Linked DNA regions of Homo sapiens. The protein of the gene in region 1 interacts with the protein of each later gene in a pairwise test. Each region holds a gene or a part of one and is shown on either strand. Other genes may lie near its edges. The genes, in order: ZNF420 and CYP4V2.

The links.
Region 2: the proteins of ZNF420 (region 1) and CYP4V2 interact in a two-hybrid assay, tested with the Homo sapiens proteins (one large-scale study listed by BioGRID and IntAct).

What each region holds. Positions count from the first base shown.
Region 1 is NC_000019.10:37,091,721-37,095,550, forward strand, and holds part of ZNF420 (zinc finger protein 420), read left to right. Parts: intron 1-3,830. UniProt on the Homo sapiens protein: May be involved in transcriptional regulation.
Region 2 is NC_000004.12:186,197,884-186,201,713, forward strand, and holds part of CYP4V2 (cytochrome P450 4V2), read left to right. Parts: intron 1-1,073; coding exon 1,074-1,200; intron 1,201-3,273; coding exon 3,274-3,459; intron 3,460-3,830. UniProt on the Homo sapiens protein: A cytochrome P450 monooxygenase involved in fatty acid metabolism in the eye.

The DNA.
Region 1 (3,830 bases):
TTCAAGACTAGCCTGGCCAACATGGCGAAACCCCATCTCCACTAAAAATACAAAAATTGAGCTGGGCATGGTGGTGTGTGCCTGTAATCCCAGTTACTCAGGAGATTGAGGGAGGAGAATTGCTTGAACCCATGAGGTGGAGGTTGCAGTGAGCTGAGATCACATCACTGTACTCCTCCAGCCTGGATGACAGAGCGAGACTCCATCTCAAAAAACAAAAAAAAAAGAACTTGCATTGGACATTGAATGAATATGCTAGAATCATCTTTTATTGTAAAATAGTTGAGGGGGAACCTGTGATTGTCTAAGAAACTTTATTGTTTTCTTCTGTAGTATTTTTATATGAAACAAAATCCGTATCAATTACAACTTTAATAAGTGATTTTCCAACCTACATGATAACTTTATTCCTTGTGCTGGAATAAACTGTCTCTTGCCTCTTCCTTCCTTTCTCCTCTGAAGCCTTTAGGAAGTCAGTGATTAACACATGTCCCTAGAGGACCCAAGTGGTGTGGAAAAAAACCTATGACTTGAGGAGAAAAGCAAGGGTTTTTCACCATGATCTTCCTAAAGACTCTTACCTAATTTCTACTGCGTCCTTTCCCTGTTGGTTTTTATTATCATTCTTCCCACTTTCAAAAGAGGGAATGGTTGGCCGGGCGCGGTCTTGTATGTGCTTGGTAGTTGAATATTACATATTAAGAACTTTGGGCTCGGCTCGGTGGCTCACACCTGTAATCCCAACACTTTGGGAGGCCGAGGAGGGCGGATCACCTGAGGTCGGGAGTTCGAGACCAGCCTGACCAACATGGAGAAACCCCGTCTCTACTAAAAATACAAAAAATTAGCCGAGCATGGTGGCGCATGCCAGTAATCCCAGCTACTCTGGAGGTTGAGGCAGGAGAATCGCTTGAACCTAGGAGGCAGAGGTTGCAGTGAGCCGAGATTGTGCCACTGCACTCCAGCCTGGGCGACAGAGGGAGACTCTGTCTCAAAAAAAAAAAAAAAGTGCAAATTAAAACCACAATGATATAGTTATTTCACATGCTATAAATTGGCAGCTTGACAGTACCAGGCATTCTCAAGATTTGAAGGCAGAAGTGCACTATATCTTGATATTCACAATAGCCAAAAAGTGGGAACAACCCAAATGTCCATCAACTAATGAATGGATAAAATTTGGTATTTTCTTAAAACGAAATATTATTCAGCAATAAAAAGGAATGAAGTTCTGATACATGCTTTAACATGGATGAACCTTGGAAACATGCTATAAAGAAATACCCGAGGCTGGGTAATTTATAATAAAAAGAGATTTACTTAGCTCATGCTTCTGGAGGCTGTACGAGCATAGCACTAGTGTCTGCTTGGCTTCTGGTGAGGTCCAGGAAGCTTTTAGTCATGGTGGAAGGGAGGGGGAGTCGGTGTGTCACTGGCAAGAGAGGGGGCAAGAGAGAGAGGAGGAAATTCAGGCTCTTTTAAACAACCACATCTCGCGTGAACTCATAGCGTAAGAACTCACGACAGAGTCTTGCTCTGTCGCCCAGGCTAGAGTGCAATGGCCCAATCTTGGCTCACTGCAACCTCCTTCTCCTGGGCTCAAGCGATTCTCCTTCCTCAGCCTCCCCAGCAGCTGGGATTACAGGCACCTGCCACCACACCCAGCTAATTTTTGTATTTTTAGTAGAGATGGTATTTCACCTTGTTGGCCAGACTGGTCTCAAACTCCTGACCTCGTGATCCGCCCACCTCCCTCCCAAAGTGCTGAGACTACAGGCGTGAGCCAGTGCACCCGGCCAAGAACTCACTCTTTACCACAAAGATGGCACGAAGCTATTCATGAGGGATCCACCCCCATGATCCAAACACCTCCCACCAAGCCCCACCTCTGACACTGGAGATTACATTCAATGTTAGATTACATCAACATGAGATTTGGAAGGGACAAACATCCAAACTATATCCCATGCCAAGTGAAAGAAGCCAAATACAAACACTGCATATTATATGATTGCATTTATATGAAACGTCCTCAATAGGGAAATCTATACTGACAGAAAGTAGGTTACTGGTTACCCAGCACTGGGGATGGGGAAGAGGTAGAACAGATGGAGAATGGGGAGTGGGGAGATGAGAAGTGACTGCTAATGAACACAGACAGCATTTCTCTTGGGGGTGAAAAAATGTTTAAAAATTAGATTGTTGTGATTGTTGCACATCTCAGTGGGTATACTAAAAGCCACTGAATTGTGCAGAAATAATATGGAAATGGTTGCCAAACTTGTGTGTACTTTAGAAATAGCTACGGTCTTTTAAAAAATTCCACAGCCCAGGCCACACCCCAGACCAATTAAATAATAATTTCTAGGCATGGTACATGAGTATCATATTTTTTGAAATTCTCTAGGTTTTTCAAATGTTTAGCCATGTTTGATAACCACTGCACTGTGGTATTATCTGAGAATTTTTTTTAATTGAATGTTCACTCCATTTAATTTATTACCAATATACTTGGATTTATTTATCCCCTATTTTATGCTTTTTGTTTCCTCTTTTTATCTTACGGGCTTAAAAAACTTTCTCCCTCCTTAATGAGGGTGGATACAATCGTGTTTTATTTTTTGCAACTCCATTTTCCCCCTTGTTTTGTTTGGAAAACGTACAGTATTTATTTATTTTTAAAAGTTATCTTTAAATTTTTATCATGTGTACCTAATTCCTTTTAATGTCAATGGTATTTTATAGTTTTTATTGATTGTAATTGTGTCTGAAAATTATATATTTAATGGACATTATATATTTTGATGGATACTAAAACATATTTATTCAGTCCACATACAATATTTGGTTTGCATATTGCTTTGCAATAAACTTGCTCTATCTCCACCCCTAGGATTTCAAGGCCAGCAAGTTGAAAAACAGACATATAAATAATAGTATCTACTGTGAAATAAATTGGTAACCTTTGTGGCAATTAGTTGAGGTTCTAAGGAGAGATAAGAAATTGACATCTCTATGTCAAATATATATTTTATTGTCACAGAATTCTTATCAGAAGTATACCAGCAATGTATATCTATTATATACTTTATCAACAGTGGCTATTAGCACGTAGAAATATCTTTGTTAAGGCCAGGCGCGGTGGCTCACGCCTGTAATCCCAGCACTTTGGGAGGCTGAGGCGGGCAGATCACGAGGTCAAGAGATCAAGACCATCCTGGCCAACATGATGAAATCCCATCTCTACTAAATATACAAAAATTCGGTAGGTGTGGTGGCACATGCCTGTAATCCCAGCTACTCAGGAGGCTGAGGCAGGAGAATCGCTTGAACCTGGGAGGCGGAGGTTGCAGTGAGCTAAGATCGCGCCACAGCACTCCAGCCTAGTGATAGAGAGAGACTCTGTCTCAAAAAAAAAAAAAAAAAAGAAATATCTTTGTTGATTTGTAGATGAAAAACAGAAGAACATTTCTGCCATTGCCGGTGAATTTAAATACTTTGGGGGTATTTCTGCCTGTTTTGGTACTTTAGTAATTATCATTATTGTTTGTGTCACTTGACAAATACATGCTTAATTTAGTGAAGTCTAAAATTCATGTCTAACTTTCCTTAAGATAATTAAAGGATATTGAAATGCTTTAACTTTGATCTGTTTCTCCAATCTGGTATTGTTGTCTGGTATTTTAGTTCTGTTCTTTTTTTAACCTACAAAATGGGCATTATTTTTGTTTCATAATGGCAATGTTTGCTTGTGGATTTGTTGATGTAATTATCTTTTATTTGTATGCTATTCCTCTTTCATTATACCTTCCTTCTGGGATATTTTATTT
Region 2 (3,830 bases), on another chromosome or scaffold:
AAACAGTTTTCTGTACCATGATAATTGTTATATTTAAAAATTATTCATAGAAAAAAACTAGCAGATATTATAACAGAATGTTAGCAGTGTTTCTCATTGTCTCGTGTATGTGTTTCTCATTCTTGTGCTTTCCTTTTGTTGTTATTCTTCTTCCCATATTTTCTGCACCAAGTAGGTATTGTTTTAGTCATCGAAACAGTCAATTTTACTCTAAAATTGCTTGCAATTATTCACCTGTTAAAAGGCAGGGCAAGGACTTGATGAAGTACAGAGAAGTGCATTGAGCTGAGTATATTTAAGTCTCCTGCTCATTTCACTTCATTTTAACCAATATTTATTAGGCATCTGTGATTTTCCAATCACTGCACAGGGTACTGACTGGTTTTGTAGTAGTACACAAAACAGAATAACACAGGAGGCAGGCAACGGACAAAGAAATTCATGAACTGTAATAATTGCTCAGGAAGAAAAGATCAAATTGATACCAGAGAGCAAAACAAGAAAGTGTCCTACAGAGTGAGAGGCCAGGAAAGGTCTTTCTGAAGAACCGGCACCTAAGCTGGTCCTGCAGGAGATCACATAGGGGTCTTTCTGCTCTATGGCTGGACATGAAAGGGAGGTGCTGGGACAGCCAAGTGACAGATGGGTACTTAGAGAGCCCTCGCTTGTAGAAGAGGGCAGCCAGTTGTCTTCTGTCACTCCAGAGGAGTGGTCAGACCAATGATGGACCTTAAAAAGAGGCCGATTTCATCTCAAACCCTGGTGCAGAGGTCCTAGGCAGAGTGGGAAACTTGCCCTGGAGAAGCAGAAGCAGAGACCAAATGGCTATCTAGTAAGGATGTTTTATAATGAATCCTTCATTCCTTTAAAGAGCCCATTATTTTCTGAGGCTTCATGGGATGCGTAATAGCCCATGCCTTCACTGCTAAGCATAAAACATGGAGCTCTTAGTAGCCTCTAAGACAATCATCGTCATTCCCACGATTGCCTTCATCAAGGCCAGGTACTAAAGAAGTGCTCAAGAAATACACATTTCTGATACAACAGCTGATGTATTTTTATCCCATTTATAGAATGAGTGAGATGATATTTCGAAGAATAAAGATGCCCTGGCTTTGGCTTGATCTCTGGTACCTTATGTTTAAAGAAGGATGGGAACACAAAAAGAGCCTTCAGATCCTACATACTTTTACCAACAGTGTAAGTCCCTGACTTTTACAATTGTGGTAAAATAGACATAACATAAAATTTCCCTTTATAACCATTTTAACTGTACAGTTTGGTGGTATTAAGTGCATTCACGATGTTGTGCAACCATCCCCACCGTTCATTTCCAGAACTTTTGGTAAGTCCATGATGTTGATGTTTTGTTAACATACCCGGTGTAGGACTATGGAGCCTATGTCTCAGAAAATAAAACTTGAATAATAATAGAAAACAATTTTTCATATAAAAAATTATACTTAAGTATAAAAATGTATACTTCAATTATGTAGTCAACAAATATTAATTAAGTACTCGCTAAGTGCTAACCACCATACCAAATGTTGGAAATGTAGTAATGAGTAGGACATGTGTATATGGTCCGTACCTGAAAGGAAGTTATTCTAGTAGGAGAGGTGATCTATCAACACATAATTACAACATGTGATATGAGCTGTGAACACTTATGAACAAACAGGGTGCTGTGTAAAAGAATAAAGGAACAAAGATCTATGTATAGGAGTTTTCTGGAAAATGTTTGGATTCGGCAGTCATTTTCAAAGGCAGAGGGCATTGATAGCAGTATCTTAACATGGAAAACATTAAAACTAACTAGATATTAGTATTCTATTTCCAATTCAAAAATAACCAGAAGATAGTGATGTTGTTTTGAATATAGGATGTCAATCTTTGTGTTAATAATGTGTTTTGAAAAAGCAAGACTTAATTGAAAATATACATCAAATTATAATTTCAGTGTATTAAAAAACTGCCTGTTTAAATATGTCCTTTCTTTGCTGTAAATTTTGGTTAAAATCTATTGGAGTTATGTCCTTGTGGTGAAGTACACCCTACCCCCAAGAGAGCAAATGATGAATAAATCAGTAGATGTTCCATGAATGCAATGTTGGCTGAGCTGGCCACAGTGGAGTGTGATCACCTGGTTATAGGAGAATAGCCAGCAGGTTATATTTCATAATTATATTTTTCCTTAAATTTTGTGCATTAATATTTAATAGCAATAATTAAATGAATTCCAGACTGAATAGACAATTTTATTCATTGAATAAACATTGAGAATTGCCTACTGAGGCCTGGGCTCTAGGAATTCCACCAAGAATAAAAAAAGACATGGTGTTTTGCCCTCAAATTGCTTAGAATCTATTCAGGCCACTTAGTAGCAGGTTTGGTCAATTACCTGGTAGGAAAAGAAGGTTGAAATGTACAACCAAATTAAGTGTATTGGCCTTCATTCTTTTATCCATCCAAGAAATATCTAGTGAGTATTTGTTAAATGCCAAGCAGTGCTCTAGAGGTTGGAAATGTATCAATGAACAAAGACATGCACAAGCATGGCAGTGTTTGAGTTGTAAGAGAAAGATGCTAAATAATAAGTATAACGTAAGTATAATATCACATTATAATAATAAGTATGACAGAAGTATCACATAATGTCAGGTGGCAAGGGAAATGGAGAAAAAGCATTGTTAGGAGGCGTCGCAGTGCTAGGGACAGGGGTAGCAGGGATGAGGGAGGTCTCTCTGATCGTGTGACAATGAGCAGAGATCTGGAAGAAGGGAGGGGGCAGCCGTGCAGGCCTCTGAGGAAAGCATTTCAGGCAGCAGAAATCGCAAGCATAGAGGGTGAATTCACTAATCTGCTTGCTGTTTCTTTTCTCCTCTACAACATGTAATTAAGTCTATAATTAGACTGTTGTATAATGATTGCATTCACTCTACCACTTAAACTTTTTCTCATTAGCGCAATCCAATCTCTAGGGTACTATCTAGTAGACTATGATTCTATTCTTGTGTTGGAAAGACTGCAAAAATAGCACTTGAAAATTAGGAATTTGCGTGACATTAAATTTGTTTTTAAAAGTTTCACCAGATAATCCCCAAAATATTAATGAGGCTTTACTGTATTTTCACAAGAGCCTATGTTGTCGAAATGTTGAAATAGGCTTAGAAAAATAAATGAAAGAAACTAGCATATTTTATAAGAAAATGTGTTAACTAGGGTGCATCCAAGTCCAAACAGAAGCATGTGATTATCATTCAAATCATACAGGTCATCGCTGAACGGGCCAATGAAATGAACGCCAATGAAGACTGTAGAGGTGATGGCAGGGGCTCTGCCCCCTCCAAAAATAAACGCAGGGCCTTTCTTGACTTGCTTTTAAGTGTGACTGATGACGAAGGGAACAGGCTAAGTCATGAAGATATTCGAGAAGAAGTTGACACCTTCATGTTTGAGGTATTGTATATTGTTAGGTTCAGATATCATTAAACAAATTTCAGTTATTGTTAGAATCTTTAGCATTATTTTTTAAAACAATCAAATTTTAAAGTAGTTTAACTAAAGAAGATTCATTATATTTTAATTAGAAATTACAAAATTTAAGAAACTGATTAAGTACCAGCTCAACTTCTTCAGAAAACGATTTTGACTAGTGCTGGGCACAGCAGTAGACACATTTGTTTTTCCTCAAGAAAACCTAAGATTTGTCAGAGTTTTCCCAAGCAGAAGAGCAGCCAGAGATTGCTCTCAGTTCTCCATGTGGCTTCAGGCTTCCTTCTAACCTCCCAGACATGCAAGTCCACTTCCTCACCACCTGCTTTCTGAGG